Homo sapiens: one gene and its partners. The protein of the gene in region 3 interacts with the protein of the main gene of each other region in a pairwise test. Each region holds a gene or a part of one and is shown on either strand. Other genes may lie near its edges.

Region 1 (7,025 bases), on a different chromosome or scaffold from region 3:
TAAGGACAGGGACTTGGAAATGGAACTGAAGTTTGAAACTACTTGTTACTCATAAGTGCAAATTTCATTTGGGATAATATATAATCCAGAAATACTGTTGGCAATATTAACTTTTGTCCATTTTTATATCTGCATTTTCCCATTCACTTACATTATAATTTTTGAGATGTTTTATCTTCACTTCTGATGATCTTCAAATGTCAATGGCTCTTAACACATTAACTGTAAATAAACACAAAGGAACTTAGGGGAATTCAGAAATTTAAGGAACCCTAAAATATTCTAAATCATTGTGCAAAGCCTGCAGGGCAGGGAGTGGTGGGGAGGAGGCTTTGGCAATTACTTGCTTCATACTTTACATGATCTTCAAAATGTAAAACTGTTCTTTTGAATGAAATGATACTACCGATACTACCCTCTTAATCATCAGGTAATGAATGAAATGATACTATCCTCTTAATCTCAGGCAAAGAAAAAAAAACATCCTATTTTCTGTCAGAAGGCAAACAAAATTCAAAGGTAAAATTCTCTCCAAATACAAACTCTCACTTGGTGAATGTATACTGTATCTTTATCCTTCTCCAGCAAAATAGCAGGTCAAGGAAACTCATGTCCTTATCACTACCACCCAATCAACCTGCCCTGGGACTGCCCTCTAACTACAAAGCTTTGGTCTGCACCTGGGGCACTAGATCTTCAGGCATGTGTGTTCTTTAGAGCACACAGACCCTGAAGTCAAATGGACTTGAATTCACATGTCAAGGTACCCTCTCTAATCTTCCGTTTTCTTCTCTGTAAAATGGAAACATTAACACTCTCTACTTTATACAGTTATGAGGATTATATGAGAAAATGCATAGAAGAAATGTAGCACCATGCCCAGCATAGTAAGCATGCAATAAATGTTGTGCTATTTATATTATTGTTGTGTTTAATATTAACATTATTATTACTATAACTGTCTACCACTAGGAAAGCAAGGCTTGTTTTCAGTGTTGCTATTTTGAGGCAATGCCTTTGGTTATGATAAAAGAATGTTGTTATCTAATATTGGTAACAGAGAACAGAGAACAAAATTTTATTTTTGAACTTTGCTGGGCTTCTTGGCTCGCTCAAGAATATTAAGGCTTGTAATCACCAGCCCATCATCAGCCAGTTATTTTCCCTTTTGCTAATGCATAACCTCCAGACAAGGCCTCCTCCCTACCTCAGCAACTGCTCATTTGCTGCTATCAGTAAAAGCAATTCTGCCGAGAAGAGAAATGGATATGTTTCTGACTTAATGTCTATTAAATCCTCAGAGCCTGATGAATAAATGTTTTATCAATCCAAAGGAGACTTATATACATATGCTCTTCTATTCACATCCAAATTATAAACTCCTTATGTTTGAAATTATATGCTTAAAATATTAATATTTAAGTTAGGTGACAAAAGAATATATAAGACACAGATGTCTCCGCATTTTTAATAAAATGTTTAGGTCAAAGATATAAAAACAAACTGAATATTGGCAAAAGCATTCATAAATTAAAATGGTCAGCTTTATTTATTTCCCTTATGGAAACCACATCCTTACAACTGAAATGAGAGAAAATACCTAAGTAGAACCCGATGCAACATTCTAGAAGAGGATAAAATACATGGATACATGGCTTGGAAATGGATGTCAAATTGGAAGTAAGCAGAGTAGGCCATCAACTTCATTACCACTACTACTTTACCGTGCAATTCCTTGAGCTCTTCAAGTGAAATACAATATAGCACGGCAATCCATTCTTCCTTTGATTTCTGTTTCCCCATCACTTAATGATCTTGTCAATATTAAATGTACCACTTTCATTTTATGGTTCCAGATTAGGATTATAAAAATCTGACCCAAGACAAGACACAAAAAAATAGAAAGCTAAACTCAAGAGTTCAGAGTGCTCCAAGATACAATTCTCTTTTTTGGTCTGCAGCAATGTATTACCTCCTCTCTTTCAGTGTGTTTTCTATTTTGGTCATCGCATTTGCAGCTCTAAGGGTGTCTCTGGCATAAGTGAAATATTGCAGACTTTAGGTGGAAAATGTCTTTCTTTTAAATGATTCATCTGTACCCAAGGGGAAAAGCTGCTATGACTCCAATACCCATTCTCTCCTATTCCTCAGTGACAGAACCTCCAAATTTAGCTCAGCACAAAGGCCTCACAGATGAGACTGCCTATCCCAGCCTCTTGTTTACCTACGTATGGCCATGGGACCATCCATGTTTTAGCCAACTGGATGTAAGTTAAAAAAAATGACATGTGACTGCCAAAAAAGTATCCTTCAAAGAGAGAGAGTATGCTCCTCTTCTTCCCTTCCTCCTGAAGATATAATAGCTGGAGTTCCAACAATAATTTTGGTTCATGAGGTAACCCTGGAATGTAAGACAATCTGGGTCCTTGATACTTCAGATCCACCATATTAGATCTGTATTGACTATCTCCAGGCTTTCATGTGGAAAAAAATTTAGCATCTCCTATATTAAGCCACTGTCAGTTTGTATTTTGTTATGTGCTGCTAAACCTAAAGTAGAACTTAAAAAAAAAAAAGAATTTTCCAAATAACAGTGTTTAAATTTTTAATTAAAATATATTTTACAGGTAATTTTTAATATATTTAATACACAGCATTTGCTCTTATTTACTCTAGACTAAAAATATTTAAAGAGCCCAAGAGTTATTCACACAAAGTAAGAGTCTTTGAAAGAATAAATATTCACCAGTGATTATGGCCATAGGTCCTATGTACTTGGGGAAGGGAAGAATTATGAAGCTTGCTTATTAACAGTTTGTATTAATGACAACATTGGTACCTATATAGAAACATATTAGGAGGGACAGGCACAATTAGCTTTGCATAATAAAGCTACAGGAAAGGGAACTGAAGTTATTATTTTCAAGAAGGCATCTTCCCTAGTCCTTTTTATTTTAATAATCTAGTACCAACTTTATCTTTTTATACAGTTCCATTTTTAATTTGACTTCCTGTGGAAAGCAGGTTTTTAAAATCACTCCCTATCCTTGACTATCACCTCTAATAGTGTTTAATTATTATCTACCGATTTAACTAAATCAAACAGTAGACACAAAGATAGCAAGTACTTTACATATTCAAAACCATCTTCCTTACAAAGGAAAAATATTCCACACTAAAATCTGGAGAATTTCCATTACTCAAATCCTGAATCGCACGCAATCTTTGGCTCTGATGATTTTGAATACAATAGCATTAACTTGGCAGCTTTCCAAAATAAACTTACTGCTTTCTGGTCATCTGTATCCAGGTTATCTCCTTCCCCTGGGCATAATCCAAACTTTACAGGTTCAGGTGATGGCCTCCTGGAATTACTTGTTCATAATACAGTTGACCCTTGAACAACACAGGAGTTGGGGTGCTGACCTTCAACGCAGCTGAAAATCCGCATATAATTTTGACTCCCCAAACTACTCCCCAGACTTAACTATTAATAGACTACTGTTGACTGGAAGCTTTACGGATAACATAAACAGCCCATCAAAACATATTTCAGGCTGCACGCCAATATACTGAACTCTAACAATGAAAAAAAATGTTATTAAGACAATCACAAAGAAAAGAAAATACATTTACTACCCATTAAGTGGAAGTGGGTCATCATAAAGTTTGTTACCCTCATCATGTTGCACATGCTGAGGAGGAAAAGGAGGGGTTGGTCTTGCTGTGTCAGGGGTGGCAGAAGCAGAAGAAAATCCACATAAAAGTGGATCTGAACAGTTCACACCCATGTGGTTCGAGGGTCAACTGTACTTTTTTTAAAAATGCTTGTTTCCACTAATCTTTCTCACTAAGAATCTATTTTTAAGAAAAAGCCTAAAACGCATATTCTTGTTTTATGTTACTCAAAGAAAAATGCCTTAGGAAATTTCCTAGAAATCAAATCTAATAAATCGACAAGAGATGACTTTTACCTTTTACTACTTTAGTCAACATTTTTACAAAAATGCTCTCAAGTAATAGTTTTACAGTACTTCTAACATAGACCTTAACTTAGTTTTAACTAATGTTGATTGCATTACAAAAGGCACCAATTAGCAAAAGATCCAAGGCAGTGGTTCTCAAACTTCAGCATCCATCGGGATCACCTGGAAAGCTTGCTAAAACACCAACAGCTGGGCTCCACCCCTAAAATGTTAATTCAGTTAGGTCCAAGGTAGGGCCCAAGAATTTGCATTTTTAACAAATCCCAAAGAGATACTGATGCTACTGGCCTGGAGACCAAACTTTGAGAACTACTGGTCTACACTAATAGGAAATTATTGATAATAGCATAAAAAGGAAAAATACAGATATATACGGGACCCAGTCTCAGGTTCACTATCAACTTGCATTCTTCAAATATGTGCTTTCTGAAAAGCTACATAATTACTATGTCAGACCAATATTGTTTCTTATCTAAGAGAACTTAGATCTTTGAGGGTTTTTAAGTAATGAAATCCAAATAAGTAATTTTTAGTCTAATATGTTCAATGTTTGATACAAGGTACTACTAATAATGCCAAGGTTGTAGGTTCAATCTGGTAGCTTTACTCTGTTTTACAGCTATAATTTCTACCTCTAATCTTGCCAGCTGTCTCAGCAGACATGCCAAGAGTGACAAAGGGAATGGGTAAAAATGTGTGATTGTACACAAATCCATCACCACTACTAGAAAAACAACATAAAAGCATATTTCCTACCAACATATCACTTTTTTTTCTTGAGACGGGGTCTCACTGTCTTGCCCAGGCCAGAATACAGTGGCACTATCACAACCCACTGCAGCCTCAACGTTCCCAGGCTCAGGTGATCCTCTCACACCAGCCTCCCAAGTATCTGGGACTACAGGCATGCACTACCATGCCCAGCTAACTTTTTATTTTTTGCAGAGACAGTGTTCTGCCATGTGACCCTGGCTGGTCTGGAATTTCTGGACTCAAGCAATCCCAAACTGTTCAGCCTCCTAAACTGCTAGGATTACAGGCGTTAGCTACTGCACCTGGCCTCCAACACGTCACTCTTAAGTGACCTTGAGGCTAAAACTAAAGATGAGACCTTGCAACAAAATGTGTTTTAGAAATCTAGGAAACTCCTCTACTTCTTCAGGCTATAAGTATAATCAAAATCCATGGAAACAGAAATCTAGGAATTCCTGTTTTCAAATGATGATAATTTTAAGGCAGGCATGCAATTTATAAATGCAATTAGTTGAGAACTACTTTGAGTATGTGTACCCCCCCTTTGATTTTTTTAATGGAAGTTAAATGTAAATATAAGATGCTCATCAATGCTAATGAAATTATATACTACAAATTGATAAAACCAAATAATCTGGGATAAACAAGTATGGTACCCAGAATAACTAAAGCCTGAGGTTATATGAAGGATGACAAGAACACACATTAATTAAAACGACTAACAACACAAGTTAGAGCAAAAGGGGCAAAAGTAATCAAGAGTAGCAGATGGATAAATAGGTAGTTGAAGAGGACATAATAACCTCATTGTGTGTAGGACTGGGCACAGAACAGTAAAATCAGCTCAAGATGTCCAGTCTCCCATAAAAATAACTTCAGCTTAGACCTGAAATTGCAAGTGTTCAGGCCAAATTCAACAGAAGGAATCCTTTTTAATCCTTTGAATGGGAACAACAAACAAGACCAGTGGTGAACATTCCGTCAACATTCTTTTATTTAGATGTTCACTCAGCACCTATTCGGCACTAGATATCTTACCATTTGATTATGCACAATACAAACTAATCAAAGAAACCCACTAAAGCAGTGCATTTTATAATAGTGTATAAACTGAAAAATGGAAAACCAGACTAAGATGGCAGATTATTACCAATATAATGTCAAATTCTGCTGTGTAACTCATTACAGTTCTGAGACTCAAGCCTACTCTTATTATCACATCTGACCTACAGTATTATTTTACCTATATCTTATAAAGTCATACTTATATCAAGAATCAGAGCACACCCAACAAAAGTAAAATTACAGAATATAACTAGATTATTAGGATGCTAAAGTGAAGTTTTCCACAACTCCCTCTCTCTTTCTGTGGGGATAGATATACATGAAGAATGGCCAACAGCAAGATATACAAGAGTTGCTGAACAGTTTACTGAAGTATGGCAATATTAAGCAGGACTCACCAAAGACAACTATTGTTTTTTTTGTTTTTGTTTGAGATGGAGTCTCACTCTATTGCCCACTCTGGAGTGCAGTGGTGCGTTCTTGGCTCACTGCAACCTTGGCCTCCCAGGTTCAAGTAATTCTGGTACCTCAGCCTCCCAAGTAGTTAGGGTTACAGGTGCGTGCCACCACGCCCAGCTGACGATTACTTTTTTTTTTTTTTTTTTAAAGATGCAGGATGACATAACTATAGCTGGTTAGGAAACTACTACCTGGATATCATATGAAGAATGAAATTGCCCTTTTGTGGGCAAAAGCATCAGATCTATGATGACCTAGAAGGCATAACTGGAGACAAGAGAACTCTGAAATGACTACAGATACTTAGTAAGACTCATCACATGTTTATTGTGAACTACAGATTGCACAACAGCCTGTAATCCAACTTCAATGGAGTATGTCATTTTCATTTTTTAAAATATTTTTACTTATTTTAAAAAGTCTTTCTTTTTTAGAGATGGGGCCTCACTATGTTGCCCAGGCTGGTCTCAAACCCCTAGGCTCAAGTGATCCTCCCACCTTGGCCTCCCAAGTGCTGAGATTACAGGCATGAGCCATGGCACTCGGCCAAGTATGTCATTTTCAAAAAACAATGGGCAACCACATGGATTAGTGTATCATCCTTCCTACTTCCCAAAAGGGCTTCAGACATCTAATCAATACATTTAAACATAACACATAATATTTAACTTGAGTTCATGTAATAATAAAAGTACTTAAAGAAATTAGAGATGAGTATATTACCACCTTCAGATATAAATTTGACTAAAGTTTTACTAAGCT
Region 2 (7,025 bases), on a different chromosome or scaffold from region 3:
TACTTGGAAGGCAGAGGCAGGAGAATTGCTTGAGCCCAGGAGGCAGAGGCTGCAGTGAGCTGAGATTGTGCTATTGCACTCCAGCCTGAGTGACAAAGGAAAACTCTGTCTCAAGAAAGAAGAAAGAAAAGAAGGAAAGAAAGAAAAGAAAGAAGGAAGGAAGGAAAAGAAAGAAAGAGAAAAGAGAAAGAAAGAGAGAAAGGAAGGGAGGGAGGAGGGGAGGGAGAAAGGAAGGAAGGAGGGAAGGAAAGAGAAGGAAAGAAAGAGAAAGAGAAAGAAAGAAAGAGAGAGAGACAGAAAAAAAGAAAGAAAGAAGGAAAGAAAGAGAAAGAGAGAAAGGAAGGAACAAGGAGGGAAGGGAGGAAGGAAGGCTTTAAAGGAAGGAAAGAGAAGGAAAGAAAGAGAGAAAGGAAGGAAAGAAAGAAAGGAAAGAGAGAAAGCGAGAAAGGAAGGAAGAAAGGAAGGAAAGGGAAGGAAGGAAGGGGAAGGGAAGGAGAAAGAAAGAAAGAAAAGGCCTGTGTCCCCACAGCCCCACACTCAGCGGGAGAAGTCTGGATGGGCTCTCTTCTTCCTCAGGGCAGAGCCAGCCCCCAGCTGTGATTACATCTGTCCTGTGGACTTGGAGAGGCAGATGTCTGCAGAGCCTACGGACTACAGAGCCAGAGCCCAGAAGAGGTGCCACGCCGCTCCTGCTGGTTCTTAACCTCTCACCAAAACAGGGAGTGGCCGTTGAGGGTTCCTACCTGTGGAGATGCTGACATTCTGCCTGGAGCCACGTGCTCCATTTTTTTCTGCCCATACAGAGAATGTGTACAAGGTTCCGGGCTCAAGTCTCTCAGCTGTCACACTGGTATTTGTTGTGTTTCGGGTCTCTGTGCCACCACCGTCTCCAGTGTACTCTACCCAGTAGGTGTAGTCCTGAGGGTATGGGCCATCGGGGACTTCCCAGCATAGGGCGATGGAGCTGTTGGTCTGAGTCTCCATATGGAGGTTTCTCACTGGGTTGGGGGCTGAGAAAGTAGGAAGAAGATCCTATGTTGTCGGAGATACAGAACAGAACGGGGCAGGAGTGGGCCCCTCACTGCCCTCAACCATCTTAGCTCTTGTTCAACTGCTGGTGCCAGCAGATGCAGGGTGTATGTTCTAGACCGTGTTTCTCAGACTAATGTGCCGGGCGTGGTGGCTCACGCCTGTAATCCCAGCACTTCGGGAGGCTGAGGCAAGGGGATCACCTGAGGTCAGGAGATTGAGACCATCCTGGCTAACACGGTGAAACCTGTCTCTACTAAAAATACAAAAAATTAGCCGGGCGTGGTGGCTGGTGCCTGTAGTCCCAGCTACTCGGGAGGCTGAGGCAGGAGAATGGCGTGAACCCGGGAGGCGGAGCTTGCAGTGAGCCGAGATCGCGCCACTGCACTCCAGCCTGGGCGACACAGCGAGACTCCGTCTCAAAACAAACAAAAAAAACAAACAAAAAAAACAAAATAAAAATCTCCAATGGAATAGCATTAAGAGGTAGGGCCCTTGCAAGATTAGGTCATAAAGGTGAAGCCTTTATGCCTGGGGTTACTGCCTAAGAGAGGCCCAATGGCCCAGCACAGTTTCACATTTCATGTGAGATTACATGCCTGTAATCTCAGCAATTTGTGGGGCTGAGGTAGGGAGATTGCTTGAGGCCAGGAGTTAGAGACCAGCCTGGACCACACAGCAAGACCTCATCTCTAAAAAAAATAAATTAGTCAGGCATGGTGGCCCACGCCTGTAGTCCCTGCTACTTGGGAGGCTGAGGTCGGCGGATTGCTTCAGCCCAGGAATTTGAGGCTGCAGCGAGCTACGATCCTGCCACTGCACTCCAGCCTGGATGACAAAGCGAGACTCCAGCTCTAAAAAAAAGAAAAAAATAAGAGAGACTCAAGGGAGCTTTGTGTGGTGATGAAGACAGTCTCTCACTTTCCAATATGGTAGGCATTAGCACCGTGGAGGATGAAGGGGGGACTGGGAGCCCCTCAACAGGCCTTTTGAGCACATGAAATGTGAAACTGAATTTGCAGTTTCATGCAACTTTAATGAGTTTAAATTTAATAGCCACGTGTGGCTAGTGGCTACCATATTGGACAATGGAGGTGTAGACACAGGGAGCTGTCCACATCAGGGTCATGGAGCTGATGATCTGAGTTTCCATCCTCAATATGTGACACAGTTGGGAACTAGAAGAAGAGTCAGAGGGTCAGAGTGTCCCCACTCACAGTATCTAATTCCTTGAAAGCTCAGGTAACATGCCTTGGCCCCTACACATTCCTCTTGGTGCAGGAAGGTGCCCCTTGGCATTATGGTCCACATTCTAGAGAGTCCTAGACACAGACTGGCCCCAACTTAGCAGCTGGAGGTACCATGGACATTCATTCCTTCTTCATCTCCTGAGCTGAGACTGCCCCAGGATGTGGACATGAGTACCTGGCTCAATATGGCCCAGAGGGACTATGGAATAGACAATCGTCTACATTCTACTGCTTACTGTCCCTTAAACAAATAAGAGATCAAACAAATGGCGACTGCCTCTCACCTGTGGTGGCATTTCGAGTCTCCCGGGAGCTGTTGATTCCATTCTTCCCCACCCACACGGAAAACACATACAAACACCCGGGTTCAAGTCTATCCACGGTGATGTTGGTGTGTGCTGTGCTTCGAGTCCCTGCTCTGCCACCATCTCCAGTGTACTCAACCCCGTAGGTGGAGTTCTGTGGGTCTGGGCCATCGGGGACCTCCCAGGTCAGGGCGATGGAGCTGTTGGTCTGAGCCTCCACTGTCAGGTTTCTCACTGGGTTGGGAGCTGAAAACCAGCACAGGAGGGAAAATCAGTTGTAGTTTCTGGCCCTCAAACTTTCCAGCCCTTCCTTAACCATTGCATCCAGCAGGTGGAGGCAGGGAGGCCCAGTTCTGCACTGTCCAGTGTGGCAGCCACGAGTTCCACGTGAGTGTTGAGCACCGTGAGGTGGCTTTTGTGAAATGAGATGAGCCGTTAGTGTAAGATCCACACCGGCTTTCGAAGAGTTCGTATGAAATTAAGAATTAAGAATGTCAACTATCTGATTGATCCTATACACACACACACACACACATATATATACACATACACATATATATACACACACATATATATACATACACATATATATATATATTTTGTGGGTATATACTCAGTGTGTATATTTAATGATCCTTTCCTTATATTGATTACATGTCAAAATGATAATATTTTGTATCTGCCAGGCGCAGTGGCTCACACCTGTAATCCCAGCACTTTGGGAGGCTGAGGTAGGCGGATCACCTGAGGTCAGGAGCTCAAGACCAGCCTGGCCAACATGGCGAAACCCCGTCTCTACTAAAAATACAAAAGTTAGCCAGGTATGGTGGCATATGCCTGTAGTCCCAGCTACTCAGGAGGCTGAGGCAGGAGAATACTTGAACCCAGGAGGTGGAGGTTGCAGTGAGTCAAGATCATGCCACTACATTTCAGCCTGGGAGACAGAGACTCTGTCCCAAAAAAAAAAAAGGGCTGGGCACGGTGGCTCACGCCTGTAATCCCAGCACTTTGGGAGGCCAAGGCGGGTGGATCACAAGGTCAGGAGATCGAGACCATCCTGGCTAACACGGTGAAACCCGTCTCTACTAAAAATACAAAAAATTAGCCAGGTGTGGCGGTGTGCGCCTGTAGTCCCAGCTACTCGGGAGGCTGAGGCAGGAGGATGGCCTGAACCCGGGAGGCAGAGCTTGCAGTGAGCCAAGATTGCGCCACTGCACTCCAGCCTGGGCGACAGAGGGAGACTCTGTCTCAAAAAAAAAAAAAAAAAAATTGTATCTGATGGGCTACATAAAATATCTCATAGTAATTTAGTTTCTTTCTTTCCTTCCTTCCTTCCTTCCTTCCTTCTTTCTTTTTTGAGACAGGGTTTCTCTCTGTTGCCCAGGCTGGAGTGCAGCAGTCCAATCAGAGCTCACTGCAACCTCTGCCTCCCGGGCTCAAGCGATCCTCTCACCTCAGCCTCCCGAGTAGGTGGGACCACGGGAACACGCCACCACAGCTACTTTTTTATTTTTTTTGTAGAGACAGGCTGACCAGTTTCTTTGTACTTATTTTTATGTGGCTGATAGAAAATTGAAATTCTCACCTGTGGCTTCCACTGTGTTTCTATTGGACTAAAGAACCTGTCACATTTTGTCAGCTCCCAACCACCCCCTACCACTGTCCTTATAAAAGAAATAAAAATAAAACAGCGGCTGCCTCTTACCTGTGGCACTAGTGACAATCTCCACAGAGCTATTTACTCCGTCTTTCTCCACCCACACAGAACACGTATACAATGACCCGGGTCCAAGGCCATCCACGGTGACTCTGGTGTCTGTTGTGTTTCGAGTCTCTGTTCTGCCACCATCTCCAGTGCACTGAACGCAGTAGGTCGAGTTCTGTGGGTCTGTGCCATCGGGGACCTCCCAGCTCAGGGAGATGGAGCTGGTGGTCTGAGCCTCCACTCTCAGGTTCCTCACTGGGTTGTGAGCTGAGAAATTAGGAAGAAAGATCTAATATGAGCAGGACTACAGAACATAACGGGGGCAGCCAGTGAGCTTTTTGTTTGTTTGTTTTTTCGAGACAGAGTCTCTGTCTGTCATCCAGGCTGGAGTGCAGTGGCACGATCTCGGCTCACCACAGCCTCCGCCGTCCGGGTTCAAGCGATTCTCCTGCCTCAGCCTCCCGAGTAGGTGGGACTACAGGTCTGCACCACCACACCCGGCTTATTTTTATATTTTTTCACCATGCTGGCCAGGCTGGTCTCGAACTCCTGACCTCAGGTGATCCTCCCACCTCGGCCTCCCAAAGTGCTGGGACTACAGGCGTGAGGCAACATGCCTGGCCAAGTGGGCATTTTTGATCATCAGAGTTCCTAGTTGTCCCTCAACAGCTGGTGCCAGTAGATGCAGAGTTTATGGTCTAGACCAGGGCTTCTCATTCTTTGCTGTGTGCACATCTCACAGGGGACCTTGTGAAATGCAGGTTCTCACTCAGCAGGGCTAGGATGGAGCTGAGAGACTGCACTCCCCCCCACCCTTTTTCTCCCCCACCAGTGTCACTTGCCAATGTATTTCCATCAGCTCTCAGAGACCCGGATGCTGCCCACACATGGACCACACTTTGAGTAACAAAGACCTGAGCCAGCGCTTTCCAACTGAGCTTCTGCAACGATGGAAATGCTCTCCCACCTTCCAGTATGGTAGGAGAACAGAGAAGGAAATGGAAGCCCTTCAACAGGGCTTTCAAACATATGAAATGTGAAACTGAATTTGCAGTTTCATGCAACTTTAACGAGCTTAAATTTAATAGCCATGTGTGGCTGGTGGCTACCATATCGGACAATGGAGATCTAGCCAGAGGGAGCTCTCCACATCAGGATCATGGAGCTGATGATCTGAGTTTCCATCCTCAATATGTGACGCAGCTGGGGACTAGAAGAAGAGTCAGAGGGTCAGAGTGTCCCCACTCACAGTATCTAATTCCTTGAAAGCTCAGGTAACATGCCTTGGCCCCTACACATTCCTCTTGGTGCAGGAAGGTACATTCTAGAGAGTCCTAGACACAGACCGGCCCCAGCTTAGCAGCTGGAGGTACCATGGACATTCATTCCTTCTTCATCTCCTGAGCTGAGACTGCCCCAGGATGTGGACATGAGTACCTGGCTCAATGTGGCCCAGAGGGACTATGGAATAGAAATCCGCTACGTTCTCCTGCCTACTGCCCCTTAAACAAGTAAGAGCAAAACAAATGGCGACTGCCTCTCACCTGTGGTGGCATTTCGAGTCTCCCGGGAGCTGTTGATTCCATTCTTTCCCACCCACATGGAAAACGCATACAAACACCCGGGTTCAAGTCCATCCACGGTGATGTTAGTGTGTGCTGTGCTTCGAGTCCCTGCTCTGCCACCATCTCCAGTGTACTCAACCCCGTAGGTGGAGTTCTGTGGGTCTGGGCCGTCGGGGACCTCCCAGGTCAGGGCGATGGAGCTGTTGGTCTGAGCCTCCACTCTCAGGTTCCTCACTGGGTTGGGAGCTGAAAACCAGCACAGGAGGGAAAATCAGTTGTAGTTTCTGGCCCTCAAACTTTCCAGCCCTTCCTTAACCGTTGCATCCAGCAGGTAGAGGCAGGGAGGCCCAGCTCTGCACTGTCCAGTGTGGCAGCCACGAGTTCCACGTGAGTGTTGAGCACCGTGAGGTGGCTTTTGTGAAATGAGATGAGCCGTTAGTGGAAGATCCACACCGGCTTTCGAAGAGTTCGTATGAAATTAAGAATGTCAACTGTCTCATTGATCCTTTATATATATTTGTGTGTGTGTGAGTATATACTTGGTGTATATATTGAATGATCGTTTTTATATTGATTACAAGTCAAAATGAAAATACCTTGTATCTGCCAGGTGCAGTGGCTCACACCTGTAATCCCCGCACTTTGGGAGGCCGAGGCAGGCGGATCACCTGAGGTCAGGAGTTCGAGACCAGCCTGGCCAACATGGCGAAACCCAGTCTCTACTAAAAATACAAAAGTTAGTTGGGCATGGTGGCACATGCCTGTAGTCTCTGCTACTCGGGAGGCTGAGGCAGGAGAATCACTTGAACCCAGGAGGCAAAGGTTGCAGTGAACCAAGATCATGCCACTGCACTCCAACCTGGGCGACAGAGCAAGACTCTGCCTCAAAAAAAAAAAAAATTGTATCTGATGGACTACATAAAATCTCTCATAGTAATTTAGTTTGTTTTTCTTTTCTTTTGTTTTCTTTTGTTTTCTTTTCTTTTTTTTTTTTTGAGACAGGGTTTCTCTCTGTTGCCCAGGCTGGAGTGCAGCGGTCCAATCAGAGCTCACTGCAACCTCTGCCTCCCGGGCTCAAGCGATCCTCTCACCTCAGCCTCCCGAGTAGATGGGACCACGGGAACACGCCACCACAGCTACTTTTTAATTTTTTTGTAGAGACAGGCTGACC
Region 3 (7,025 bases):
TTGGTGTACATCGTGTAGCTGCCTTTGTAGATGTGTTTTTATCTCAGCTGATAATCCGAAATTGAGATATCATGCATCAACAGTAGCTTTCAATTTTTATCTGAAGGATTTACCTGGGCACATAAATTATGCTTCTGGATGTGGAGGTGATCTTTACTTCCCTGATTATTGGTCATGTACTAAAAAGTCAGAATTATAGTGATGATCCTCTAGTTAGGTACTAGAGCCTCAAATTCATAATAACCACAGAATTTTCGAAGGGAATAAAGACATAGGATTATTCAAAATATATCCATGTACTTCTATTCTTAATGACAACTGTCTATAATTAATGACACTTGCATTTATCATAAAAATTCACTTTGAAATTTGTATTAAATATAGGCACTTGTGGGAAAAGGGCATCAAATACATTTTATTAGAATATGTTTCAGTTGGTTAATAAAACTAGAATGTGTATTTCAAAATTATTTTCTGATGATTTATCTTTTAAGAAAAGTGGAAATTTTAGGTGTTTATAGTTTGTAACTCCATTAGCCACTAGGGGAAAAAAAACCAGTAAATACTATGACTATTCTCTGAAAGACTGGCTTTGATATCCTTGTGGCTATTAACATTCATTTTTAAACTATTTCTAACAACGCCTTCTCTCCACATATGTTTCTCTTATTAACAGAACCAGTTTGTATACCGAGATGGAGGTTTTGCTGCTGAACAAGGAGTGTCTGTGCCCTACAGAGCCCCAACTAGCACAATTCCAGAAGCTCCTGTGGCACAGGGTGCTACTGCTGAGATTTTTGATGACTCCTGCTGTAATGGCACCCTACGCAAGCCAGTGGCACCCCATGTCCAAGAGGACAGTAGCACCCAGAGGTACAGTGCTGACCCCACCGTGTTTGCCCCAGAACGGAGCCCACGAGGAGAGCTGGATGAGGAAGGTTACATGACTCCTATGCGAGACAAACCCAAACAAGGTATGAACTGATTATTCAGAAACGATCGCCATTCGAAGTTCACTTCCATCAAGATAAACAAAGTACAGAATAGAAATTGCCAGATAGCTGACCAGCACAACATTTGTGATCCAGTAAAGGCCTAGGCTACTGCTACTTGTAGTATGGTCCCTGAATCAGCAGCATCCACATTATTTATTATTATTTATATAAATCAGAATCTCAGGCAGGCCCCGTCTGAATAGGAATCTGGATTTTAACAAGATCCCCAGGCTATCTGCATACAGCAATCAGTCTTGAGAAGCACTATTCTAAACATATTTTGTTGAAATATTTGAATGAAGTAGCATACTACAAAGTGTCAGGACCATAGCTTTATTGGACTTAATTGCGGAGATCAGAAAGACTGGTATTGTTGGCAAAAGTGCCTGATGCTTTTGATGGCACTAATAAAAGATTTGTTTGACTCATTTAAATGATGACATTTAAACAACCTAGTTTATTATAGGAAAATATTATGTTCTTATATGACGTTTTTCAAAAATTAAAGGTTTGACCCTGTATATACTTACAAGCATACCACCAAGATTTGAAAATAATAATCTGTGGTTTTACAAAGCATAACAATAATTTTGTAAAGTTAGTAGTAGAAATGTTAAGCACCCAAATCAAATAATGCTTCAATTTTGCAACAAAACAGCCTTTCTTCTTCTATGCTAACAGTATCACAACAGAGAAGATAGATGATTGTTATTAAAAAATGATGATCATGTCTCTCGCAGTCTTTAGTGTCAACAGTAAACTACATTTTAAGACTCTGAGAAGGGCCTGGTATATGGTTATGTTCTCTCCTTTAAAGTAAAATTTAGAGATCTCTAATTGTAAATAACCTTTTAAAATATATCTGTCTAGATAAAATTTTTACATATCTAAAACTTCTATACATATAAAAATGTAATGAAGAGTTTGGATGCTCATAGTAGCCTAGTAATGACACAAATGTAGACGTTGTGAAGACTTGGCAGATTCACCCCAAAGAAGAATCTTTTCTGGGGAGATTTTCACTCCAACCGTAAAGTTATTGGACAGCTATATAAGTTTGCATGAGGACAATATATAAGTAGATTGCATTGAGGAAAGGTAAGGTGAAGAGAAAAGCAAGTCACCCTATAGAGTCACACTGTATTCTCAGATTTTATCTCTGAACACTAAGCTCCGTTTCTATAAAAGGTTGCTATAGTCTAACCTCGTACTCAGAGAGTACAGAATTTTAGTGTAGACATTCCTATTCTTTCAATTAAGAAGTTTAAGGAATCTGGTAAGAGAGACCAAATTCTGCATTCCTTATAAATGTTTTCATACACTTGTCAAATTAAAACTTGTTACTAAGCATAAAGTTCACCCAACTCCTGCAGGGGCAATAATAAAAAACAGTGCAGTAGAATAAGAAGATTATGCAAGAGGAGTTAGAAGACCTGAATTCTATCCCAACACTAATTGTATCCTGCACACATCATTTAATCTCATTTTTCTGTCTACAAAGCTGGAAAAATAAGTCTTGTACTTCTTTTTCACAGAATTGGGAGGATGAAATGATAGTGTCTTGTAAAGGCCTATATATGATAGTGGGATATTCATTACTGCCCTTTAAGTTGAATAAATGATGCTAAATACTTACCTATTCTGTATATATATATTTGGAGAAAAATAATCCTCACTTAATAGGATTTTTCTCTCTACTTATTGGGCTAAGGATAAAAGACAGAAAGTTTGTTTCAGAATGGCCTCTCAACAAAGAATTGTGCCCTCTTCATGCCTTGAATTCAAAATAGGAATAGCTTAGGGCTTTGTGTATATAGTAAAAGAGAGGACTGTCAGAGGACTTACAATACATGCGTGTTTATGTCTATGTGCAGTCTATATTATAGACATAGATGTGGAATTAAGCTTCAGGAGAATGGTGATAATTATTAGCACCTTTTAGGCCAATACCTATACTAGATGGATTTATTAGATTGATCCGTACAAAATAGGCACTAATTGACTGGTTTCAATATACAAAATTTATTTTATTTTATATAATTCAAGCTGATAGTTTGCTACTTTGTGATTATGATTGGTCAATGGAAATATTATAATTATACTTTACTATTAAGTAGAAGTATATGTAATGTCAAGCAGGTCAACTAGAGGCATGTTAGCTATCTGTTAGATTTGCTTTTTTAGTTGAATTTTTTTCCTTTGATGCTTTCTTTTCCATGTGTAAAACCTTTTTCAGAAGCATCTCCAATTAAATCCTTGTTACCAGTATAGGCAATCATAGCAAACCATAGAGACTAAAAAACATGATTTCTTCACTCCATCTATTCATCTTGGCATGGAACTCAGCTATAGATTCTTGTTTTTTCAATATCCTTTATAGAAGTTAAGTTGTCTGTATATTTAAAGACTATTTAATCCTAATAGGTAGTCTTATTTCCTAATATAAATAACTTTTAGAAAACAAAAACATTGAAACAACCAGCCCCATATGCAGAAGAGACAAATGCAATTAGAAAGAAAGAAAAATTTAGGAGATAGAAATTCTGATTCTGGCCTCGTTGGCTTCTTGTTTTATTATAAACATTTTTGACCCACTTACTCTTTTTTTCATAAGACAATGGTGATCCACAAATACTTGTTGTGAGAAATCATGAAAACAAATCTGTGGGTTTTTTTGTTCTAGACAAAGAAGCTAACCATTATGTATAACCTTGGTCTGATTAATATTTTCCAGAAACTAGAGGTTAGCTGATATTTTTTTATTCCTTTAGAATACCTGAATCCAGTGGAGGAGAACCCTTTTGTTTCTCGGAGAAAAAATGGAGACCTTCAAGCATTGGATAATCCCGAATATCACAATGCATCCAATGGTCCACCCAAGGCCGAGGATGAGTATGTGAATGAGCCACTGTACCTCAACACCTTTGCCAACACCTTGGGAAAAGCTGAGTACCTGAAGAACAACATACTGTCAATGCCAGAGAAGGCCAAGAAAGCGTTTGACAACCCTGACTACTGGAACCACAGCCTGCCACCTCGGAGCACCCTTCAGCACCCAGACTACCTGCAGGAGTACAGCACAAAATATTTTTATAAACAGAATGGGCGGATCCGGCCTATTGTGGCAGAGAATCCTGAATACCTCTCTGAGTTCTCCCTGAAGCCAGGCACTGTGCTGCCGCCTCCACCTTACAGACACCGGAATACTGTGGTGTAAGCTCAGTTGTGGTTTTTTAGGTGGAGAGACACACCTGCTCCAATTTCCCCACCCCCCTCTCTTTCTCTGGTGGTCTTCCTTCTACCCCAAGGCCAGTAGTTTTGACACTTCCCAGTGGAAGATACAGAGATGCAATGATAGTTATGTGCTTACCTAACTTGAACATTAGAGGGAAAGACTGAAAGAGAAAGATAGGAGGAACCACAATGTTTCTTCATTTCTCTGCATGGGTTGGTCAGGAGAATGAAACAGCTAGAGAAGGACCAGAAAATGTAAGGCAATGCTGCCTACTATCAAACTAGCTGTCACTTTTTTTCTTTTTCTTTTTCTTTCTTTGTTTCTTTCTTCCTCTTCTTTTTTTTTTTTTTTTTTAAAGCAGATGGTTGAAACACCCATGCTATCTGTTCCTATCTGCAGGAACTGATGTGTGCATATTTAGCATCCCTGGAAATCATAATAAAGTTTCCATTAGAACAAAAGAATAACATTTTCTATAACATATGATGGTGTCTGAAATTGAGAATCCAGTTTCTTTCCCCAGCAGTTTCTGTCCTAGCAAGTAAGAATGGCCAACTCAACTTTCATAATTTAAAAATCTCCATTAAAGTTATAACTAGTAATTATGTTTTCAACACTTTTTGGTTTTTTTCATTTTGTTTTGCTCTGACCGATTCCTTTATATTTGCTCCCCTATTTTTGGCTTTAATTTCTAATTGCAAAGATGTTTACATCAAAGCTTCTTCACAGAATTTAAGCAAGAAATATTTTAATATAGTGAAATGGCCACTACTTTAAGTATACAATCTTTAAAATAAGAAAGGGAGGCTAATATTTTTCATGCTATCAAATTATCTTCACCCTCATCCTTTACATTTTTCAACATTTTTTTTTCTCCATAAATGACACTACTTGATAGGCCGTTGGTTGTCTGAAGAGTAGAAGGGAAACTAAGAGACAGTTCTCTGTGGTTCAGGAAAACTACTGATACTTTCAGGGGTGGCCCAATGAGGGAATCCATTGAACTGGAAGAAACACACTGGATTGGGTATGTCTACCTGGCAGATACTCAGAAATGTAGTTTGCACTTAAGCTGTAATTTTATTTGTTCTTTTTCTGAACTCCATTTTGGATTTTGAATCAAGCAATATGGAAGCAACCAGCAAATTAACTAATTTAAGTACATTTTTAAAAAAAGAGCTAAGATAAAGACTGTGGAAATGCCAAACCAAGCAAATTAGGAACCTTGCAACGGTATCCAGGGACTATGATGAGAGGCCAGCACATTATCTTCATATGTCACCTTTGCTACGCAAGGAAATTTGTTCAGTTCGTATACTTCGTAAGAAGGAATGCGAGTAAGGATTGGCTTGAATTCCATGGAATTTCTAGTATGAGACTATTTATATGAAGTAGAAGGTAACTCTTTGCACATAAATTGGTATAATAAAAAGAAAAACACAAACATTCAAAGCTTAGGGATAGGTCCTTGGGTCAAAAGTTGTAAATAAATGTGAAACATCTTCTCATGCAATTATTTTATTATCCAACACACTAATCTTTTGATACTTTATATAATTCCCTTTCTTCATATACTGCATCCAGTACTAGAACCATCATTATTATGTATCATTTTGAAAGAATACCTGATGAGATGAAGGATGAGAACAAATGACAGAGATGAGTCTCCAAGTAAAGGGGGCCTCACATCAATAATTAGGAAACTTAGATATAAGTCGCCCTTTTCTGAAAATTCTACCCCAAGTCATTTAGATTTTTAAAAAATATTTCTAATGTTAAAATATTGGGACCAAATTAGAATCAATAGTATAAGATTAATTAATTAGAGTAAAAATATCTATTAAGGCAGAGAAAGTTTAGAGAAAAAAATCCAAAGAAATTTGTGTTTCTTCCTATTCTGAACAAGTAAATCCATCCATCCATCCATCCAAACCTCCTTTATCTAACTGTGTCTACTAAAAGCACCATGTTTTGTGGGGAACACTCAGATAAATGGAATATCATCCTCAACTTCAAAATTCTATGATCTAGGAGATTTAATTAAAATGACATTTTAATTTTTCTATGCGTTCCAACAATCAGATTGCATAGTCTCTTTTGTGAATAGCTGTCATATAATCAGTTGTACTGTAAGATATCTCCTTTAAACTCATTTGGGATATAAGTTAAACATCCTTCAAATTGTTGATGTTGACAAACAGGATAATTTCAATAATATTATTCAAACATAAACTGGTCTAGGAGAATATTGCATCACTGACTAATTAGCCTATCTAGAGTCTAACTTCACCATTAAACCAAAAGCAGATGGTGGTCCTTGGCCAAGAATATTGGAGACATTGGAGTTGGTTTTTTTCTAAGCTATAAGAAGTGAGGCGAGCTGAAAAAGTATGGTAGAGCAGGAGAAGGGTTTGTGAGATTCCTTCTAGTGAAGTTCACCCTCAAACTTTTCAGGGGTAAAGACACAGAGTGATTCAGGGGCCACAATCTAATAGCTCAGGGCTCTCCTATCCATTCAGAGAAGTCTCTAGGAAAAGGGATCTCATATCAGTACTTATGAAAAATTGAATATAAGCCTCCCTTTCTAAATAAATCTGCATCGAGTCATCACAGCCCTCTTTTTGGATACTATACCTTGATTTTTTTTTTCTGATTTACAATATGCATATGGTTTCTACTGGGCTATAGAAAGCAGAATCACTCATTTTGGAGAAGGAAAAAATGAATAGTTAAAACAAACTTTTAACTGTTAAGGTAACAGAAATGTATTTAGTGAATGTCTCTTTCCTCCTAAG
Region 4 (7,477 bases), on a different chromosome or scaffold from region 3:
CTCCTGAGTTGGTGGGGAGTCCTAAAGCTCCTGGAAGGCCCCAACTCTGGGGGACTCCTGTATCAGACACTGGTTCATTCTTTTCCAGATGACCTTCTCCCACACCCTCTCCTTTCTCACCGGCTGCTGCCAGCTGTCTCCCTTCTTAGCTCCTGGAAACTGGGGCGAGTGGAAGGGTGAAAGGAAGGTCCTGAAGGTGAAATCTGATCCACAGGAGCAAGAGATGAAAACGGAATCAGAGGTGGACCCCAAACCCTCAGGCCTCACCACCAACCCCATCTCCCCCAGTAGGATCCCTTGCCTCATCATGAGGTACCTCTTCTCCCAGAGCCCAGCTTTGTCCCTGGAAGGAGCTCCCAGAAGCACCGACTATCAGCCCCTCAAGGGCACTCACCAGAGCCTGTAGCCTCTGGGGGCACAATGTCCGGCCTCGAGGTCCTGGTCCCTCCAGCCTAGAGAAGCAGGAAGCCCTGGCAGGGTCCAGTCGGTGGGTGGGGGTTCTGGGGGCCAAATATGCAGAGGCCCGAACACCCTGGGACACCAACAGAGGCTGTCAGCACTGCTCAGGATGCCCCCCTCAGTGCCCCCTAGCCTGGTCTCCTCACATCCTGTTTCATTACCTGGACCCTCTGGGTGGTGCCTCCCTGACTTCCTCGAACCAGTACTCTTTTAGCCAGACTAGGCTGGCGCCCCAGGTGACAGCTCTTCACACCCTCACCTGACAGGATGGTGGCCAGGGCTGCAGGGTCAGCCACAAACTCTATGGTCCCTGGAGCCTCTGCAAGGAAAGAGGAGAAGGAAAAGGAAGGGGGAAGGCTGAGGGGGATAGGGCCCCTAGCATAGGAACTTTGAGGTACAAGGTGAGCAAGAGACTCATTCAATTGAATTTGGCTTATTTTTTTTTTTTTTTTTAAGAAATAGATGGCTGGGTGCAGTGGCTCATGCCTGTAATCCCAGCACTTTGGGAGGCCGAGGCGGGTGGATCACCTGTGGTCAGGAGTTTGAGACCAACCCGGCCAACATAGCAAAACCCTGTCTCCACTAAAAAAATACAAAAATTGGCTGGGTGCGGTAGCTCACTCCTGTAATCCCAGCACTTTGGGAGGCTGAGGCAGGTGGATCACCTGAGGTCAGGAGTTTGAGACCAGCCTGGCCAACATGGTAAAACCCCATCTCTACAAAAAACAAAAACAAAAAAAAATTAGCTGGACCTGGTGGCGCGCGCCTGTAGTACCAGCTACTCAGGAGGCTGAGGCTGGAGAATCACTTGAACCTGGGAGGTGGAGGTTGCAATGAGCCAAGATCGTGCCACTGCACTCCAGCTTAGTGACAGAGTGAGACTCTGTCTCAAAAAAAAAAAAAAAAAAAAGAAAGAAAACAAAAATTAGCTGGGTGTGGTGGCAGGTGCTGGTAATCCCAGGTACTCGGGGTGAGGCATGAGAATCGCTTGAACCTGGGAGGTGGATGTTGCAGTGAGCCGAGATCATGCCACTGTACTCTAGCCTGAGGGATAGAGTAAGACTCTGTCTCCACAAAAAAAAAAGAAAAGAAAAAAAAAAAGAGAAAAAGAGATGGGGTCTCACTATGTTGCCTAGGCTGGTCTCAAACTCCTGAGCTCAAATGATCCTCCTGCCTCGGAGGAGTGTTGGAATTACAGGCGTGAGCCACCACACCTGGTCACCAAATGTTCATAGAATGTTACATAAGACACTATTCTAAGCACTGGGGTCCCATAAGAATAAGACAAAGCCCCTATCCTCAAGAGGCTATCATCAAACTATAGACAGGTAACAGACTCAAGCCAAGGTATATACATGTTATAAAAGAAGTGCTGCAAAGTATTAGGAGAACACAGAGCAACTGATTGTGACATGGGGAACTGGAAAAGGCTTCAGAAGAAGTGATATTTATTATTTATTTATTTATTTATTTTTTAAAGAGATGGGATCTCCCTCTGTCATCCAGGCTGGTCTCCAACTCCTGGCCTCCAGTGATCCTCCTGCTTCAGCCTCCTGAGTAGCTGTGATTACAGGTACAAGCCATGGCACCTGGCGAGATGACATTTTGCTGGAGGAAAGGGAGATCTTCTAAGAGCAAAGAGCTTTCCAGGAGCTGGGACCAGGACTATCACAGTAAGTAGGAGACAGCAGGAGTGAGTGCAAAACCCCAAAACCCCACTTTTACCCTTCCTAGTCCCCTACTCAGCCATGGAGGCCGTGTTACCATGGCTCCAACAGGTACCTGTCTGGGCAGGGGGCCCAGGCCCCACATTTTGACCCCTAGGGCTAGGCCTGAGCTCTTCCAAGGGGTTCCGAGGCTGACTGATCCCCACCAATCTTTGTGATGTCTCTGCCTGGTGCCTGGCTTTCGGCCTGGGGCCTGCTGAATCAACGAGGGGGCGTTGAATATTGAGCGGTGGTTTCTGCACCCATCTCTAGGGGAGGGAGCGGGGACAAAAAGGTGAGGTTTAGTGTTGGGGTGCATTACTGGTGTGACTACTGTCTTCCCCCATTAGGCCCCTCTTACCCTTGGATCTTGGTTCTCCTGGTCCACGGCGCACGATGTAACAGTGGGGAAAGGCGTGCGTTTCTGAGAGCGTACCGGAATCTTGCTAGGGGTAGGAGATACACCCCGGAGGAGGGGATCCTTCGTGGCTTGCCGGGTGGTCATGATGGCTACAATTGAGACGGGGAAGAAGGCAGGCAGAATCTAAGATCAAAGATCAACCAGTTCTCGGGGCACCTGTCCTGCCATCCCTGATACCTCCGCCCTAATCCACGCGCCCACAAGCCCCCGGCGCCTGCAAGACCGCTCTTATGGGTGCTATCTCCAGACACCCCGAGCCTACTCTTTCGCCCTCGGGCCCCAAACTGCCCTCCTCCCTATGAACCCAGCAGCCTTCGTTCCCTTCAAGACCCCCGTGCCTTACCTTACCGAGGCCCCTCAGGGCCTACCCAGCTTCCTCCGCTTTTCTCCTGACCCTCTCGGGTGCTGCTGGAGCTACTTTCTCAGTTTGTAAAATACGCCAAGCTCTTGATTGGCCCGGTCGCGCTCCCGCGGAGGCCCGCGTAGCCAGACTCAGCCGTCCAATCCGCGGGCATCGCAGGAGGGGCCAAAAGAAGGACCAATTGTCGAACCGCTTTCTGGCGAGGAAAAAAACTGACTCGGATCAATCAGCCAATCCGAGAGTGGAGCGCCGCTGGGAGGCGGGGAAAGAGGAAGGATGGGGCCGTTCCGAGGCCGGGGAAGGCGTAGCCACGGGAGCTCTCGCGAGGCCTCAGGACCGGCTAGGGGCCGGCCATTGGCAGGACCGGGCGAGGTCGCGGTACTGAGGGTACAGTTGATCGTTCCGATTGCTGCCAACGGTGTTGAAGGCTGGCCCGAGCCCCCGACCCGGCTTGACCATAGCACGGCGCCAAGCTTTGGGGACGCCATTCCAGATGCCCATAGAAAATATCTGCGTCCGGGCGCGGTGGCAGGCGCCTGTAATCCCAACACTTTGGGACGCCGAGGCGGGAGGATCTCTTGAGCTGAGTTTGAGACCAGCCTGGGCAACATAGCGAGACCACTCCCACCCGTTTCTCTACAAAATAATAAAATAATAATAATAATCCCTGTGCAGTGGTGCGCGCTTGTAGTCCCAGCCGCTCTGGAGGCTGAGGCAGGAGGATCGTGTTGAGCCCAGGAGGTTGAGGCTGTAGTGAGCTGTGGTCGCGCCACTGCACTCCAGCCTGGGCAACAGAGACCCTGTCTTAAAAAAAATAAAGAGGGAAAGAGAGAACATCTGTACGTTGTCTCCGGGATAAGGAACTGCCTTCAAACGGGCGGAGAGGGCTGGAGGGAATCGAACTGAGCCTAACAATATGTGTGCTCCTTGGAGCCTCACAATCCAGTGAGGTGTCTGATGAGGTGTCTTTCATTTTACGGGTAGGTAACAAGACTCATTGTTTTTGAACTCAGTTACCACAGCACCAGAATTGAATGGCTACTCACAGCTGGGGATTTCCTTGCCTCCAGGTTGCCTTTTGCAGATCTAGAGGTCTGGGGAGAGGGGGCTCACCTGCTGGTTATTGGTGGGCAAGGCTGTGAGACTGAGAGATCCTAGAATATCCTGCTTAAGATGGAAGGGGTAACCCCTAACGGGGGACAGGAAATGAACAACACTTAACAGAACTCTGGTGGATTTTCCCCACCAATCACAGAAGTTATTCTTACACAAGCCAGAAACCGAGGAGTTACTCCTTAACTCCTCCCACTCCCTTTACATATCCCATCTCTCATTCACTCTCACTAGTTTTACTATTTATGCATTTTTGGGACAGGGTCTCACTCTGTCGCCCAGGCTGGAGTGCAGTGGTGCGATCTCAGCTCACCGCAGCCTCGGCCTCCTGAGGTGGGAACCTCAGCCTCTCAAGTAGCTGGGACTACAGGTGCCTGCCACCAGCTAATTTTTGTGTTTTTTTGTAGAGACAAGATCTGGCTACGTTGTCTAGCCTGGGGTTACAGGCGTCTTTCCCAGCACTTTGGATGGCCCAGGTGGATCGCTTGAGGCCAGGAGTTCCAGACCAGCCTAGACAGTGTAGCAAGATCCTGTTTCTATAAAAAAAAATTTAAAGATACGTAAGGTATCTTTACTAATTGTATGCATCTTTAAAATTCATCTACTTTCAGGCTGTGCGCGGTGGCTCACGCCTGTAATCCCAGCACTCTGGGAGGCCAAGGCAGGGGGATCACCTGAGGTTGGGAGTTCAAGACCAGGCTGACCAACATGGAGAAAACCGTCTCTACTAAAAACACAAAAATTAGCCGGACTTGGTGGCTCATGCCTGTAATCCCAGCTACTCAGGAGGCTGAGGCAGGAGAATCGCTTGAACCCAGGAGGCGGAGGTTGAGGTGAGCCGAGATCGCACCACTGCAACTCCAACCTGGGCAACAAGAGCGAAACTCCGTCTCAAAAAAAAACCAAACAAACAACAACAAAAAGATCATCTACTTTCGGCTGGGTTTATGACTGTAATCCCAGCACTTTGGGAGGCCGAGGTGGGCGGATCACCTGAGGTCAAGAGTTTGAGACCATCCTGACCAACATTGTGAAACCCCGTCTCTACTGAAAATACAAAAATTAGCTGGGCATGGTGGCTGATGCCTGTAATCCCAGCTACTTGGGAGGTTGAGGCAGGAAAATCACTTGAACCCAGGAGGCAGAGGCTGCAGTGAGCCAAGATTGTGCCACTGCATTCTCCAGCCTGGGTGACAAGAGTGAAACTCTGTCTCAAAAAAGAAAAAAAATTTCTTACTTTCTCTTTCTTTCTTTTTTCTTTTTCTTTCTTTCTTTCTTTTTTCTTTCTCTCTTTTTCTTTCTTTCTCTTTTTTTTTCTCTCTCTCTTTCTCTCTCTCTCTCTCACTCTCTCTTTTTCTTTCTTTCTTTTTTTTTGAGACAGAGTCTTGCTCTATCCCCCAGGCTGGAGTGCAGTGGCCTGATCTCAGCTCACTGCAGCCTCCACCTCCCGGGTTCAAGCGATTCTCCTGCCTCAGCCTCCTTAGTAGCTGGGATTACAGGCACCAGCCACCATGCCCAGCTAATTTTTGTATTTTAGTAGAGACGGGGTTTCACAATGCTGGTCAGGATGGTCTCGAACTCCTGACCTCAAGTGATCCACTTGCCTCGGCCTCCGAAAGTGTTGGGATTACAGGCGTGAGCCACCGCACCCGGCCCATCTACTTTCTTGTTCTTTGTTAGCACCACCCTAATCCACCTCAGTCTCACCTAGGCAATTGCAAGAGTGTCTTAGTTGGTCTCCCATCCCCTATTCTCTCTTTCTCTTCACACTCTTCCATTCTCCATATAGCAGCTAGAGTAATCTTTCCAAAATGCACATCAAGTCAGGCTACCACTATCCCTTGACCTCTCCCCACTGAAACCCTCCATCTTCTACCACTCTTCCCCTTCTATTAATATCTCCAACTTCATGGCTTCTTTCAATTCCTCAAGTTTGTCCTGATTGCTCTATATGGTCCCTGTTTCTGGAATGTCCTTTTCACTTCCACTTGGCCTATTTATGCCTCCAAATTGATTCCCATTGTTATTTCCTCAGGCCTTCCTTGCACCCCTCTACCTACCACCCACCCCAATCTAGTAAAGACCTCTTGGCTATGTGCTCGCAAAAAGTAATGTTTGTTTCCTCAGAGCATGTATGTTAGTTGGTAATTATATATTAATCAGTGTGAACATAATATGTTTACTAAACCCAGTTTCCTCCAATAGACCTCCAAGGAGATGATGAAGGTGACCCTCTATTTTTGGCCTACCATCATATCTTTAGTACCTTGCATTATCCTTCGTAAAAGTGCTCAATCCTTGTTGAATGAGTCAATAGATAGATGAATATATGATTGAATGCATCAACAAGGAAGACCTCCAAGAAGAAATAATGTTTGAACTTCCTCTTTAAAAAAATTTTTAAGGTCAGGCGTGGTGGCTCATGCCTGTAATCCCAGCACTTTGGGACACCAAGGCAGGCGGATCACTTGAGGTCAGGAGTCTAAGACCAGCCTGGCCAATATGGCAAAACCCGGTCTCTACTAAAAATATAATTAGCTGGGCGTGGTGATGCATGCCTGTAATCCCAGCTACTCAGGAGCCTGAGGCACGAGAATCACTTGAACCCAGAAGGGAGGGTTGCAGTGAGCAGAGATCATGCCACTGCACTCTAGGCTGGGAGAAAGAGTGAGTGAGACTTTGTCTCAAAAAAATATATATTTTTAATATACACTTTTTTGTATAGAGATGGGGTCTTGCTATGTTGCCTAGGCTGGTCTCAAACTCCTGGGCTCAAGCCATCCTCCTGCCTCAGCTTCCCACAGTGCTGAGATTACAGATGTCAGCCACTGTGCCAGCCTGCTTTTACTTTTTTTGATTAACTCTGTTTTCAGGATTCATCCTTATTACTACATATAATCTAATTCATTGCTTATACCTGCTACATAGGATTCCATGGTAGGCATCCATTATACTTTACTTACCCATTCCTGACTTCTACACACAATGCCAGACAGTTATCTCTTTCATAGTCCCCTGTGAACCAGTTCAAGAATTTCTCTGGAACATATTCCTCGGAGTGGAATTTCTGTGGTAAGGTATATGCATGCTCAATTTTACTAAGTAGCACCAGATTATTTTTCAGAAAATCTGTAGCTGTAAACCGGGCATGGCACACACTTGTAGTCCCAGCTTCTTAGAAGGCTGAGGTAGGAGGATTGCCTGAGCTCAGGAGTTTGAAGCCAGCTTTGATAACAGTGAGACACTCTAAAAAAAACCCTGAAAAACAAAACCAAGCAAGAAAACCCAGGTCTGTAGCTGTTTACAGTCTCAACATCATTACTGAAAGTTCTTATTACCTCATACCCTTTCCAACACGTAATATTATACAACTCTCTAATATTTGCAATTCTAATAGGTATATTAAGTGTACTCTCA

What was found.
Region 1: the proteins of ERBB4 (region 3) and MTMR2 interact in a two-hybrid assay, tested with the Homo sapiens proteins (one study listed by BioGRID and IntAct).
Region 2: the proteins of ERBB4 (region 3) and PTPRH interact in a two-hybrid assay, tested with the Homo sapiens proteins (one study listed by BioGRID and IntAct).
Region 4: the proteins of ERBB4 (region 3) and TROAP interact in binary tests that used the Homo sapiens proteins (3 or more experiments, as listed by UniProt).

Annotation. Positions count from the first base shown.
Region 1 is NC_000011.10:95,914,091-95,921,115, forward strand, and holds part of MTMR2 (phosphatidylinositol-3,5-bisphosphate 3-phosphatase MTMR2), read right to left. Parts: intron 3,397-7,025; exon of another isoform or gene 3,287-3,396; intron 1,874-3,286; exon of another isoform or gene 1,725-1,873; intron 223-1,724; exon of another isoform or gene 152-222; intron 1-151. UniProt on the Homo sapiens protein: Lipid phosphatase that specifically dephosphorylates the D-3 position of phosphatidylinositol 3-phosphate and phosphatidylinositol 3,5-bisphosphate, generating phosphatidylinositol and phosphatidylinositol 5-phosphate.
Region 2 is NC_000019.10:55,199,493-55,206,517, forward strand, and holds part of PTPRH (receptor-type tyrosine-protein phosphatase H isoform 1 precursor), read right to left. Parts: intron 6,101-7,025; coding exon 5,834-6,100; intron 4,557-5,833; coding exon 4,290-4,556; intron 2,831-4,289; coding exon 2,564-2,830; intron 1,011-2,563; coding exon 744-1,010; intron 1-743. UniProt on the Homo sapiens protein: Protein phosphatase that may contribute to contact inhibition of cell growth and motility by mediating the dephosphorylation of focal adhesion-associated substrates and thus negatively regulating integrin-promoted signaling processes.
Region 3 is NC_000002.12:211,380,802-211,387,826, reverse strand, and holds part of ERBB4 (receptor tyrosine-protein kinase erbB-4 isoform JM-a/CYT-1 precursor), read left to right. Parts: intron 1-676; coding exon 677-974; intron 975-3,766; coding exon 3,767-4,212; 3' UTR 4,213-7,025. UniProt on the Homo sapiens protein: Tyrosine-protein kinase that plays an essential role as cell surface receptor for neuregulins and EGF family members and regulates development of the heart, the central nervous system and the mammary gland, gene transcription, cell proliferation, differentiation, migration and apoptosis.
Region 4 is NC_000012.12:49,318,802-49,326,278, reverse strand, and holds the start of TROAP (tastin), read right to left. Parts: upstream 3,025-7,477; 5' UTR 2,930-3,024; intron 2,676-2,929; 5' UTR 2,671-2,675; coding exon 2,527-2,670; intron 2,435-2,526; coding exon 2,242-2,434; intron 2,133-2,241; exon of another isoform or gene 2,125-2,132; coding exon of another isoform or gene 2,005-2,124; exon of another isoform or gene 1,891-2,004; intron 1,788-1,890; exon of another isoform or gene 1,703-1,787; intron 779-1,702; coding exon 621-778; intron 533-620; coding exon 395-532; intron 204-394; coding exon 121-203; intron 1-120. UniProt on the Homo sapiens protein: Could be involved with bystin and trophinin in a cell adhesion molecule complex that mediates an initial attachment of the blastocyst to uterine epithelial cells at the time of the embryo implantation.